Homo sapiens: one gene and its partner. The protein of the gene in region 2 purifies or fractionates together with the protein of the main gene of each other region. This does not show direct contact. Each region holds a gene or a part of one and is shown on either strand. Other genes may lie near its edges.

Region 1 (7,027 bases), on a different chromosome or scaffold from region 2:
GTAGCCTCCAACTCCTGCACTCACACGATCCTCCTGCTCAGCTTCCTGAGTAGCTGGGATGACAGGCATGAGCCACCACTTAATGGCTAACTTAAAAAAATTTTTTTGTAGAGACAAGTTCTTGCTATGTTTCCCAGGCTGGTCTTGAAATCCTGGACTCGAGTGATCCTCCCACCTGGGGCTCCCAAAGTGCTGGGATTACAGGTGTGAGCCACTGCGCCTGGCCTGTGGTTTTTTATATCAATTGTATGGAATCTGAGTTTGATCTCACCTCTAGTCTAGAGCAGTGGCTCTCAGGTTTTAGTGTGCAACGGTATCATCTGGAAGGCTTGTTGAAAAATAGACTGGTGGGCCCATCCACAGAGTCTATGACTCAGTAGGTCAGGAGTTGGGGCCGAGGACCTGCATTTTGAATAAGTTATCAGGCAAGGGCTGATGCTGCTGATACAAGGAGGGCACTTTTGAGAAACACTGCTCAAGAGAAGTTCTTGATTGTACATAAATGCATTTTGCAGCTAAATATACACTGAATAGCCTTTAACACAAATTGTGGCTTCATTTAGCAAAAAAAAGAGTTTCACATAAATAACTACAGGCTAGCCTCTGGCTAGGAAGAAATCTCATTAGAGCTTTATACCTTTGATAAAAGAAAAACAAATGTTATTACCACAGCAATACATACTGAGTAGGAAAATCAATCAGAACAAAGACCTTTCAGAAGTCAGGGGTTATTTTCCCAGTTCACTGTTTAACCTTTTTTAAGCACCTGCTTCTGCAGAGTTTGATGACTCTAACTATTAATATATCTGCTTTCCTTGAAGCTGCAGGGAAATAGGGGATATTTTTTTCTTATCTTGCAAGCTCTTTATCCAGAAATTTAAAGGACTGTAACCTTTAAGAACAATATGGCTGGGCACAGTGGCTCACACCTGTAATCCCAGCACTTTGGGAGGCCAAGGTGGGCAGATCACCTGAGGTTGGGAGTTCGAGACCAGCCTGGATGACAAGGCGAATCCCCGTTTCTACTAAAAATACAAAAATTATTTGGGTGATGTGGTGGACACCTGTAATCCCAGCTACTTGGGAGGCTGAGGCACAAGAATCACTTGAACTGGGGAAGGGGAGGTCGCAGTGAGCCAAGATCGCACCACTGCACTCCAGCATGGGCGACAGAGTGAGATTCTGTCTCAAAAAAACAAAAAAAAGTAAAATTAAATAAATGCAAAATGTGTATGAAAGTGCTTTGCAAAATACAGAGTATAATACTGACATATATGAAGCATTGTCAAAATTACTAAACTTAAAAAAAGAAGAACTTGTCAGATACCATTTTAGCTTCAGTTTCAATGATTCAGTAGTCACACTGTTGAGCTATGACTCAGTCAACGAACATTTTACAAAGTACTGGGGATGCTGTGCTACATATGGGGATTCGTCATGCACATGCTTCTGAGTTGCACAGCGGTAACTACACACACCCTTGTCCCCACAGAATGTTCAGACTTATGTATTTATAAGTTAAATGGCTACAAACCTTCATTTTAAAGACCGGCTGGAATTCTTTCAGAGCAGATAATAATTTAATTTGAATCGAGGCTCTTTCGGCTTCTTTACCATCTGCAAAAACATCAAAGAGGGCATCCAAAGCTTCTCCTGCTACCACAAGGGAAGGATCTTTGGTGGTAACTTCAAGCAGAAAGCACCCAATGTTCTGGAAACAACAAAACACATTTAGTATGACTAACACCAGTCTCCAAAACAAGTACCAACTTTGAATGTGGCAATAACTCATGCATACTATTTTATATACAAATGCCAGGGAAAAATTAAAACTTCAAGAGATTAGACTTAAATACTTATAAACATACCAAGTATAAGCAAGATAAATTAAACATATTATAGTTTATATTCATAAATAAAGTGAATTAAAATCCATAAATGATGTATGATTTTGGAAATCACTAAATTTTCCCCTCTACCTCTCTCAAAAAGGATTTCTCCATGATGTCAAGATGCATAGAAATATTATCTGTAACAACAACGACAACAACAAAAAATCTGCTTTTAAAAGCATAAGAAAAACACTTTAGGCCAGTTGCAAGTGGCTCACACCTGTAAGTTCAGAACTTTGTGAGGCTAAGGCGGGAGGGTCGCTCGAGCCCAGGAGTTCAAGACCAGCCTCGGCAATGGAGCAAGACCTCATCTCTAAAAAACGTAAAATAGGACTGATCTGAATCGAATCTAGTCTGTAGATCTAACTGTCAGTTTGTAGGAAATACAAGGATAAAAAAACAAATTTACCACCACAAGGTAGCAATCAGACAAATCCAGAAGGTTTTGGACACTATATTGGACAACTGATCCAGGAGGTGAGAATAACCACGTGGTGCCGGGGAGGAACTGTTCAAGATTAAGAGAGAAAGAGAAGACCCCACAGGAAACATAACATGTGGACTTCAGCAGTGTAAACAAGCTCTCTGTAAACAGATAATTTTGAGGCAACTGTAAAATTATGAATATGGACCAGGAATTAGACACACTAAGAAATAACTGTTGCCGGGTGCAGTGGCTCATGCCTGTAATCCCAGCACTCTGGGATGCTGAAGTAGGTAGATCGCTTGAGCCCAGGAGTTCAAGACCAGCTTGGCCAACATGGCGAAACCCCATCTCTATTAAAAATACAAAAATTAGCCAGGTGTGGTAGTGGGCACCTGTAATCCCAGCTACTCGGGAGGCTGAGGCAGAAGAATTGCTTGAACCCAGAGGCGGAGGTTGCAGTGAGCCGAGATCACACTACTGCACTACTGTACTCCAGCCTGGGTGACTGAGACTCCATCTCAGAAAAAAAAAGAAAAAAAAAAAAGCTTTGCAAGTATCATTTTTCAAAAATAGATTCTTAAAAACATCAGTCATCATTGTAAAGTTCTTAGCAGGTTAAGAGGTACTTTATAATAATGAGTTTATTATCCACTAGTCTCACACTTCAGCAATTATTAGCACACCAAAGTGTAATGTTACTATGACTGTCCTTTTAATTACTAGTGACGCTGTACTCCTAACAGTGCAGTTTGTGAGCAACTGTGCTAAGTGGTAAGAGCAAATATGCTGAGGGAATTGCTAGTATATTGGCACTACCAGGGTTGCTGCTTAAAATTTATGGAGTGGTATTAGAATTAATTAACTGTGTTGTATTTTTCAGAATGCATGTTGCCTGGTGTGCAAGGAAAATGGTGTGGATTGTTCATTCATCAGCAGGAGAATGTAACATGCATACATTGGATGCAACAGCAAAGGCAGAAGGCATCTTTAAAAATTCTGAATTTGCCCTTTCACTAAAGACAGATTTATTTTTTTAAAAAAGTACCTCTGGAATAACGTTAAATTGTAAAATGTGGCTCAACTTTTCAAATACTTACCTAATTAATACACATAGTTAGATCAAGCCAAAGGGTATATTCTAATAATATGACTCAATAAAGCAACTTGATATGACTTCTTCTCTTCAAGTCCACACAAGTTTTAAGAAATCCTACACCAACAGTTCTTCTCCCATTTCTAATTATTTAACATGTTAGGTCAGAAGCAAATTGTTTTACCTTAAGAGTTTCAAGTGTACCATCTTCTTTGGCAAGGACGCTGCCAGTGATTCCTAAAATGCTAACGACATTCACTCTAACCCCGACATTACTACTATGAATGCCTGCTTTGCATAATGTCATCAGCTGATCAGGAGTCATGCACTGTTAAAAGAGAAGAGGACAGTATTTATAATGTTAAACTCAATTAATTCTATCAGCATGTGAAAACCGGACTGACAGGAATCTCCTCTATAGGCTACAGGATTTTAAGAGTGACATAAACTCCTGGCAGGTAAGTTACTATTAATATGTATTCCAGTTCTCCCAGACAGAGCTGGTAATTCTGAACTAAGGTGAACCCTGCTCATGTCGGCACTGTTATCTAATATCAAAGGGGCTCCATTTAATTTGATGAAGACTTTCATTCCAGATGTACACACACTAAAGAGAGTCCAATTCCTTTTTAATATTAATGGTAAGAAAAAGGCTTTGAAAGTATAAATAGGATTGTGTGGTTTTAAAAAAATTGGCTGAGTCTATACAAGGTAAGAACTTACTTTGAGATATCTGTATTATCATAATTAAAGACTGTAGAAACCATTACATTATATGGTGCTTCTACCATGTAGTGGATAATTTTCAGTTTAAGGCTGGGCGCGGTGGCTCACGCCTGCAATCTCAGCTACTCAGGAGGCTGAGGCACAAGAAACGCTTGAACCTGGGAGACAGAGGTTGCAGTGAGCTGAGATTGTGCCACTGAACTCTAGCCTGGGCAACAGAGTGAGACTATCTCCTATAAGCAGCAGCACAGTGTAGTGATGAAAGGCTTGGAATCTGGAGCCAGACACAAAGGCTTGGAATCTGGAGATTGAACCCTGGGTTCAAATCCTAGCTTCACTACTTATCACTCGTGTGAGCCCCTACACTAGACTAATGTATTTTTATTTTTTGTAGACATGAAGTCTCACAAAGTTGCCCAGGCTGTTCTTGAACTCTTGGGCTCAAGCAATCCTCCCGCCTCAGGCTCCCAAAGTGTTAGGATTATTAGTATGAGCCACTGCACCTGGCCCTGAACATGGGCTTTGAGTAATTTTCCTTAACCATCACACTGATCCCATAAGCTGCTGCTTACATACCAGGGGAAATCAATAAAAATACTTGATATTCCTATAGGCCCTAGAGTATAAGGTTTTCTGGTCCATCCAACAGCCACATGGCAGGCTATGCATCCCATTACCATTCCTACTTCTTAGAAACTGAGGGTCAAATTATGCTCTTCAAAAAAATTCTTAGCTTTGGAAAGCTGAGGCAAGAGGATCACTCGAGAGCAGGAGTTTAAGACCAGGCTGGGCAACATAGCAAGACCTCATCTCTATTAAAAAACTAAAAAATAAAAATAAAGTATAAAAAAATTTTAAAAGCATTAAGAAAAAAATTATATAAAGAAGCAAAAAGAAATAGTGTTATTGGCAATAACAAGAGCATTGTTATTTTGATACTATTAAGTACATTCCGTAGGATAAAGCAAATAATAGTTTTAATGTCACTACAATTTTAATGTTACTACAGCAAACAATTTTAATATCACTGTATAGCAAATAATTTTAATGTCTTTTAATGTCACTACTACAAAGTACATTCTGTAGGAGAAAGCAAATAATAAAATTTTTGAAAAATATTTTTCTTTCTTTTCTCTAATTTTAATTTTTAAATTATTTATTATTATTATTATTTTTGAAACGGAGTATCGCTCTGTCGCCCAGGCTGGATTACAGTGGCCCGATCTTGGCTCACTGCAAGCTCCGCCTCCTGGGTTCACACCATTCTTCTGCCTCAGTCTCCTGAGTAGCCAGAACTACAGGCACCCGCCACCACACCCGGCTAATTTTTTGTATTTTTTAATAGAGACGGGGTTTCACTGTGTTAGCCAGGATGGTCTTGATCTCCTGACCTTGTGATCCGCCCACCTCGGCCTCCAAAACTGCTGGGATTACAGGCGTGAGCCACCGTGCCCGACCTATTTATTATTATTTTTAAAGCCAGTCAAACTTAGCGTGGGGGGTTGTATACCAACTTCAGTGACACTAATGTTAATAAGTCCTGATAACCCACTACCATCAGACCAGCTGCAAATAAGAATTTTAATGTCACTAATGTATCTTTTTGGGTACAATGTACCTTTTTGGGTACAAATGTATCTTTTTGGGGGATACAAAAAGATAGAAATACAAAATCGAAAATTAAGTAAAAATATTGTACCATTTTTTATTTAAACTGGAAATTATCAGGATAAACTTACTATTTTTGTCTCCTAAAAAAATGCCTATTTCCTAGCTATTTCCACTAAAAAGACCTAGAAACAATGGCAACATGATAGCAATAAGCACTCCACAATTCACTTTCCCCACTAAAGAAATCAGAGCTTCTTGGAGAAGTAACTAATTCCAGGGTTTTTTTTTTTTTTTTTTGAGACGGAGTTTCACTCTTGTCACACTCTTGTCACCCAGGCTGGAGTGCAGTGCAATCTTGGCTCACTGCAACCTCCACCTCCTGGCTTCAAGCGATTCTCCTGCCTCAGCCTCCCAAGTAGCTGGGATTACAGGCGCGTGCCACCACACCCAGCTAATTTTTGAATTTTCAGTAGAGACGGAGTTTCGCCATGTGGGTCAGGCTGGTCTCAAACTCCTGACCTCAAGTGATCCGCCCACCTCAGCCTCCTAAAGTGTTGGGATTACAGGCATGAGCCACTGTGCCTGGCCAGATTCCAGGTTTTAAGCAAGAAAATTACAAATTGAACCTGGGACATCCTATGCCTGGAAGCAAAAGTGATCAAAAACCTAAAATTCTTGTAAAAGAGGCACAGGAGCCAATTTGAAGGGACTCCTACTATCCAAAGATGGGATGAATTTGGCAGCAAAAAGCATGACTATAATGGAATGAAATACAAATATATAAAAAACCCTGAGTTCAAAATGATACTAAAAAAAAAAAAATCACTGGTCACTTATAGAGATTGCTAGGATAGCTATTCTGAAAAAAAAAAAAATCATAGCTAATAAATGTAAAAAAAAAAAAAAGAAAAGACAAAATTAGGGTATCTCTATTCTGCAACCCACTAATGACATAATGGAGCCAGGCAACCACAATCACTGGTTATAAAACCATTATGTGAACCCACTAATTAATCTCAGCATCACTATTTTATAATATCATATGATTTGTGATATAAATATAGGAAATATATAAAGCACTATAAATTATTCTTGCCAAAAAATCTGGACCTGTCTAGATTATTTATTATAAATACAAAAAATAAATAAATAAATAATCTGGACCTGGATCTAATTAAGGCTCTAGACCTAGCTCCCGGCTCACAGGAAACATGGGGGACAGAGGAATGCTGAACGATGCCATCATGATGAGTTGGCCAAATCTGCCAGTGCAGAAAA
Region 2 (7,055 bases):
CCAGACTTAATTTTGGGGTCAAGGGACAAGTCTTCCCCTTCAGTTATGGTCTAGGAGAGCCATGGAGGGTCTCCCTGGCCTCCACAAAGCCTCAGCTGGCAAGGGGGCTCCAGGCTGGCCCGGGATGGGAAGATCCGAGCAGCTTCCACCTTCCTTTCACCCCCTCCTAATACTGTGTGCCAGCTCCTGGGGTGGGCTCTGTAAGCCACTGGGTCCTACACTGCCTCTCCTTGCTTCGGTATTTTCACAGAGTCTTGCTCTGTCACTTAGACCGGAGTGCAGTGGTGTGATTGATCTTGGCTTACTGCAACCTCTGCCTCCTGGGTTCAAGCGATTCCCCTGCCTCAGCCTCCCAAGTAGCTGGGGTTACAGGCACGCACCACCACACCTGGCTAATTTTTGTATTTTTAGTAGAGACGGGGTTTCACCATATTGGATAGGCTGGTCTCGAACTCCTGACCTCAGGTGACCTGCCCACCTTAGCTCCCAAAGTGCTGGGATTACAGGTGTGAGCCTCCGTGCCCGGCCTGAAAATAGTTTACAACTAACACATCAAAGCCAGTGATTTCAAGGGTTATGACTGCTTCAGAGAACACTAAATGTATTTAAGATTATTGGAACCCTCATACACTGGTGGTAGGAATATAAAATGGTACAGCTGTTCTGGAAAAATAGTCTGGCAGGTCCTCAACAGGTTAAACCTGGGTGCAGTGGCTCACACCTATAATCCCAGCACTTTGGGAGCCTGAGGTAGGAGGATCGCTTGAGACCAGGAGTTCAAGACCAGCCTGGGCAACATAGTGGGACCCCTATCTCTACAAAATAAATAAATAATAAAATAAATTAAAAAAATATTTAAAGGTGAAACCTAAAGTTACCTTACGACCCAATCATTCCACTCCTAGAAATATACCTGAGAGAACTGAAAATGTATGTCCAAAGACCTGTACATGAATGTTCATAGCAGTATTATTCATAATAGTCAAAAGTTAGAAACAACCCAAACATCCATCAGCTGACAAATGGATAGAATGTGGTATATCCACATAATAGAATATTATGCAGCCATAAAAAGGAACGAAGTACTTAAAAAAAAAAAAAGGAATGAAGTACTGATACAGGCTGCAAGGGGCTGAACCTTAGAAACATTCTCTGAAGTGAAAAGCATCAGATACCAAAGGCCACATAGTATATGACTGCATTTATATGAAATGTCCAGCACAGGCAAATTCATAGAGAATTTGAGAGTCAGTAAGTGGTTGCCAAGGGATAGGGGAAGAAAGGATTGGGGAGTGACCATGAAACAGCCTTTCTTTTGGGCATGATAAAAATGTTCTAAAATTAGACAGTGGTGATGACTATGCAACTCTGAACATCCTAAAAATTACGGAAACATATACTTTAAAAGGGTGAATTGTACGGCATGTGAACTGTATCTCAACAAAGCTGTTATAAAAAAAGTTTGCATGAGATTTTTAAAAATCAGGTGATACAAAGATGTATATTAAGTAAACAACAGTACAATTGGGGTTCAGTGGGGTGGGGGGATTCAGAAATGACCCAACAGTTCCTTTAGGACAATGAAATAAACCCAGCTTTACAGTTATGGAAACTGAGACTAGATCGGAAGGAAAATGCGTCGCCCGGGCCACATCACTACTAAATCCGGTGTGTCACAGATCTGTTCAAATCCAGAAGCCTACCCTCGCCAGCAGACCACCCTGCTGAGATGAAAGGGTTATCACATGGAGGCTAGGGAGAGGTGTCCACCCACAGCCCAGTCTGGCAGACAGACATGCAAGGGAATGTCTGTTGGGAAGTGAGAAAAAGGGCTGGCTAACTCTGTGGGGTTCAAAACAGGAAGCACCCAACAATACCAGGAGAATGCCAGGGAAGGCTTCCCGGAGGAGGTGCTGCTTGAGGGGGCTTCTGTAGGATAAGTAGGAGTTCAACAGCCCGCCTCCTCAACATCCCCAAGGACATTAAGTCAGGAGGCCTGTGAGTGAGTTTCAGCTCTGCCACATCCTAGCTGTGAATCCTAGGGTCACGGGCAGGTGACCTCTCCAAGCCTCAGTCTCCCCATCTGTAAAAGGGGAAGGGGGCAAGAGGTTAGGCACGGTTCTTTCTAATGACTCTGCTGAGGTGGATGGTTCCTTCCCTAGGGAACGGGCCTTTGAGTGGGAATGCCAGACCTCGACCTCTGTCCCATCTAACAACGACTCTGCCAGGTCAGGCGTGCTCAGCCTCTGAGCCCATGCTCCCAGTCCCCTGCTACCAGTCCCAGTCCCGGCTTTCCGGGCACCTCCCATCCAGCTCACACCGAGAAGCGGAGTTTACGGAGGGAGGTTGGGGGTTGGGGTGGGATCCTCGGGTCAAATTCCTCTCCACTCCTCACCAGTGACCTCCAAGTTCACTAGGGCTCCCCAACCCAGTGCTCCCAGCGCCCACCTCCCCAGCCGACGATTTCCGCCCCCAACGCCTCCACTTCTGACGCTCCTCGCAACTCCACGGCTGCTGCAAGTTAACTTCCACGCGCCCTGGCGCCCGCCTGGGGGTCCCCGCGCGCCTGGGCGAGGTTGGGGACTCCGGAGGCGGGGACGCGCCGCCCTCCCCCCCAGTCCCCCCGCCAACAGACGCTGAGCGTCTCCCAGGCGCTGGGTCCGAAGCGGGAAGCGTGGTAACGGGGGCCCGGTGGATGCCGCACCCCGCGGAAAGCGCTCGGGACGCCGAGCGGGTGCGGATCCCAGAACCGCGCGCCCGCGCCGCCTGCCTGCCTCCCAGATCCCAGCTCCCAGCCCCGGAGCCCGAGCAGTCGCGCCGGGCCCGGAGGCAGCCGCCAGGACGGAGGGCTGCCAGGCGCCCGAGGCCGACCCGCACGGCCCCCAGCCCGCGCCCCCGGTTGCAACCCGAGGCCACCCCCTGCCGCCCCAGGGCCACCTACCGTGGCGAGACGCGGCGAGGCAGCCCCACGCACCCAGCGACTCCCGGCTCTCCAGCCGCCCCAGCCGGGGAAGGGGGAGGTGCCCGCGCGGGGGCGGGGCCGCGGCGACGTGACGTACGGGGGCGGGCCCGATACGCGGCCCCGCCCCGCCCCGCCCCATCCCCTCCACTGCGCCTCGGGACCGCGAGGTGAGCAGAGGCTGGTCGGGAAGTTTCCCGGAGGCTCGCCCCGGGAACCCCGCCCCGCCGCCCTGGAAGCCCCTGTCTGCTCGCTGGCTTACCCCTAGGACGGGCAGCTCACCACTTCTCCCGGTCAGTTCTGTTTAAGAGAAGTTCCTTTCTGCCTGTAAGCAATGAAGTGGAATGATCACCAAAAAGTGGTGTAAGAAAAGAAAAGTAGACCCGCAGCGGGGTGTATTCGTGCTACTGTTTGTGTAAAACACAGAAAAAAGAAAGGGGTGGTCTGATGTATAGTCATACACACCAGTGGTTTTGGAGGGAGTTTTTGTGGATATACCACATTCTCTCCATTTATCAGGGATTTTGCCCTGACATCCCTCCACCACCACGACATTTGGCAATCTCTGAAGACATTTTTGGTTGTCATAACTGGGGAAGTGGAGAGGCGATACTGGCATCTAGTGAGTAGAGGCCTGGAATGCTGCTAAACATTCTGCGGTGCATAGGACACCCTTTCCACCCCCAGCCCTGCCACTACCCCCCCAAAAAAAACCCTGCAAAAAATGCCGAATAGCGTAAAGGTTGTGAAGCCCTGATATACACAAATGAAACAAAACTCCTGACTGATAAATCTTAGCACAGTCTAAGTTCTATAACCTTTCAGTGCTTCTGCTTCTTCATGTGTAAAATTGGAAAAATAATAGAGCTATCTATGCATCGTATGCTTGTGCATTGAATACCTGAAGAAAAGGTAGGGTAGGCATGCAGGCTTACTTTTCATTGTGAACTTTGGTTCTTTGTTCTCTTTTAACTTTCTATTTGCCATATGTATATATTATCTGTTTAAAATAAATTTCTGGGTCAGGTGCATGGCTCACACCTGTGATTCTAGCACTTTGGGAGGCGAGGCGGGCGGATCACTTGAGGCTAGGAGTTCAAGACCAGCCTGGCCAAAATGGTGAAACCTCGTTTCTAATAAAAATACGAAAATGACTTTGGGAGGCCAAGGTGGGTGGATCACATGAGGTCAGGAGTTCGAGACCAGCCAGGCCAACATGGCGAAACCCTGTCTCTACTAAAAATACAAAAATTAGCCGGGTGTGGTGGTACATGCCTGTAGTCCCAGCTACTCAGGAGGCTGAGACAGGAGAATCGCTTGAACCTGGGAGGCAAGGGTTGCAGTGAGCTGAGATTGCACTGCACTCCAGCCTGGGCAACAAGTGAGACTCTGTCTCAAAAAAAAAAAAAAAAATGCAATCCCAGCACTTTGGGAGGCCGATGCGGGTGGATCACCAGGTCAGGAATCCAAGACCAGCCTGACCAATATGGTGAAACCCTGTTTCTACTAAAAATACAAAAATTAGCTGGGCATGGTGGTGCATGCCTGTAGTCCCAGCTACTCAGGAGGCTGAGGCAGAAGAATCGCTTGAACCCAGGAGGTGGAGGTTGCAGTGAGCCAAGATCGCACCACTGCACTCCCACCTGGGCGACAGAGTGAGACTCCGTCTCAAAAAAAAAAAAAAAAAATGAGCAGGGCATGGTGCTGCTCACCTGTAATTCCCCCTACTTGGGAGGCTGAGGCACGAGAATTGCTTGAACCCAGGAGGCAGAGGTTACAGTGAGTGTAGATCGCACCACTGCACTCCATCCTGGGTGAGTACACACACACACACACACACACACACACACACACACACAGAAACTAGGGCACACAGATATTAAGTAATTTGCCCATGGCCAGCCACATGTTCATTCATTGGTCATTCATTAATTCATTCATGTGTCCAATAAATAGTTAGTGCTTGCCTTATGGAAAATGCTGGGACTGATAAAGCTGCCTCCATGGAGCCAGCCATTACTGGTCTGGAAACAATACAACAACATTACATAGTGTTTATTGCGTGCATGTTAGAGACTTCATATGACTGATTTGATAGACACATAGATTAAACACCAGCAGGGTGTTTTATAATGTCCTTTTGTGGATGAAAAAAATGGAGTTCAGAGGAAGAGGTGTGAATGGGGGCATTTGTTTAATAACATTCTAGCAATGGCATTTCCTGAGCTCTCTATGCTAGGCACAGATTCAGCAGCTAACAGGGGGACAAAGGTCCAAGTTGGGGAAGCTAGATCCTTCAACAAGCCTTCACAGTAAAGTGAGCACCTGTAACTGATGAGGCAGGAGCAGCAGAGATTAACCTGGTCCAGGGAGGGAGGGCCAGGCGTGTGTATACATGCCAGAGGCATGGGTGGGGATCCTTGGAAGAGTGCACTGGTCACAGAATCTAGCAGGTGCAAAGGCCTAGCAGGAAGGAAGCGAGCCTGGGGCCTTGCATGAAGTGCAGAGTGGACAGGATGTGGTGGAGGTGAGAGAAGAGATCAGAGGTGTCTGCAGGGCTGGATGCTGCAGAGCTTTGTGGGCTGTGGGAAGGAGTCGGGGCTTTTCTCTTGCAGTGATGGAGAGACAGGGAAGGTGTTCAACAGGGGAAGGGCATGGGGAGCCTGACTTTCTGCAAAGATCCCTCTGGTGCTGTGTGAAGAAGAAACAGGCAGAAACTGGTTTGGAGGGTGTTGAAATAATTCAGGAACCCAGAGAGGGGATGTGGGCATGGAGGGGGTGTTTTGGTTCCGGAGAGGTTTGGAAGACAGAATTGGCAGATCTCAGTTGAGAGGCTAAGGAGGAGGATCAGAATGATCGTCTTGTTGTCTAGGTTGGGACTTCTCTCAGTACCCCTAGCTCAGTGAACCTTTCCAGGTCTCAATCTGTCTGTCACCTCCTTGAGGAAGGCTAATTGCCCCTCAGGACATCGTGGTGGACCAGACACCAGACTGTGCAGCCCAGGAATTTGATGTGACTTTGAAGGCAGACAAAATAATTCATTCCTCCTGTCTGCATCTTCAGCCGGGAACACCTAGAGCAGATACCTCTTCTGTCTTCCTCCCCAACCTATCTTCCCAGCATCTAGGCAAAACCCAGTACTTAAGAGGTTTTATCAAAAGCAGGAAGAATATTTATCAAAAGCAGGAAGAATAGATGTAGCATAATACACATTGATCCAAAAATTCTTTCCAGCTCTGACATTCAAGAGGATGAGGTTGATGTTATGTCAATAATTACACTTTAGGCCAGGCTCAATGGCTCACTCCTGTAATTCCAGCACTGTGGGAGGCTGAAGAGGGAGGATAGCTTGAACCCAGGAGATTGAGACCAGCCTGGGCAACATGGTGAGACCTTGTCTCTACTTTTTTTTTTTAATTAAAATTTTTTTAAAAACCATTTTATTTATTTTTATTTTATTTATTTATTTCTTTGAGACAGAGTCTCACTCTGTTGCCCAGGCTGGAGTACAGTGGTGTGATCTCGGCTCACTGCAACCTCCGCCTCCTGGGTCCAAGCAGTCCTCCTGCTTCAGCCTATTGAGTATCTGGGATTACAAGCATGCGCCAATATGCCTGGCTAATTTTTGTATTTGGAGTAGAGATGGGATTTCTTCATGTTGGCCAGGCTCGTCTCCAACTCCTGACCTCAAGTGATCCACCTGTCTTGGACTCCCAAAGTGCTGGGATTACAAGTGTGAGCCACCATGCCCAACCACAGAAAACACTTTATTCAGGTGCTTGCTATGTGCTAAACACCTTATAATTATTATATTCAAGCTGATCATTTACCCTCTCCAAGCTTTTGGTGTTTTATTATCATTACTCCCATTTTACAGATGTGGAAACAGAGGCTCCAGCAGGTAATTTGATTTGGCCAAGGATAATAGCTGGTAATTGTCAGAGCTGGAATGCAAACTCAGGTCTCTCTCACCCTTTCTAGTACACTGATAGAAGGCAGTGGCTCGGCAGTGGGCAGGAAGTAAAAGTAAGTGGGCAGGTTTTCTTCTCCTGCTGGAAGGGTGTAGTATTATTGTTCCTAGCTGGGGATCCAGGCT

The links.
Region 1: the proteins of TPST2 (region 2) and HEATR3 purify together in Homo sapiens (co-immunoprecipitation; 2 studies listed by BioGRID and IntAct, with this or other methods). This does not show direct contact.

What each region holds. Positions count from the first base shown.
Region 1 is NC_000016.10:50,096,943-50,103,969, reverse strand, and holds part of HEATR3 (HEAT repeat-containing protein 3), read right to left. Parts: intron 3,741-7,027; coding exon 3,597-3,740; intron 1,712-3,596; coding exon 1,535-1,711; intron 1-1,534. UniProt on the Homo sapiens protein: Plays a role in ribosome biogenesis and in nuclear import of the 60S ribosomal protein L5/large ribosomal subunit protein uL18 (RPL5). Required for proper erythrocyte maturation.
Region 2 is NC_000022.11:26,587,112-26,594,166, forward strand, and holds the start of TPST2 (protein-tyrosine sulfotransferase 2), read right to left. Parts: upstream 3,022-7,055; 5' UTR 2,942-3,021; intron 1-2,941. UniProt on the Homo sapiens protein: Catalyzes the O-sulfation of tyrosine residues within acidic motifs of polypeptides, using 3'-phosphoadenylyl sulfate (PAPS) as cosubstrate.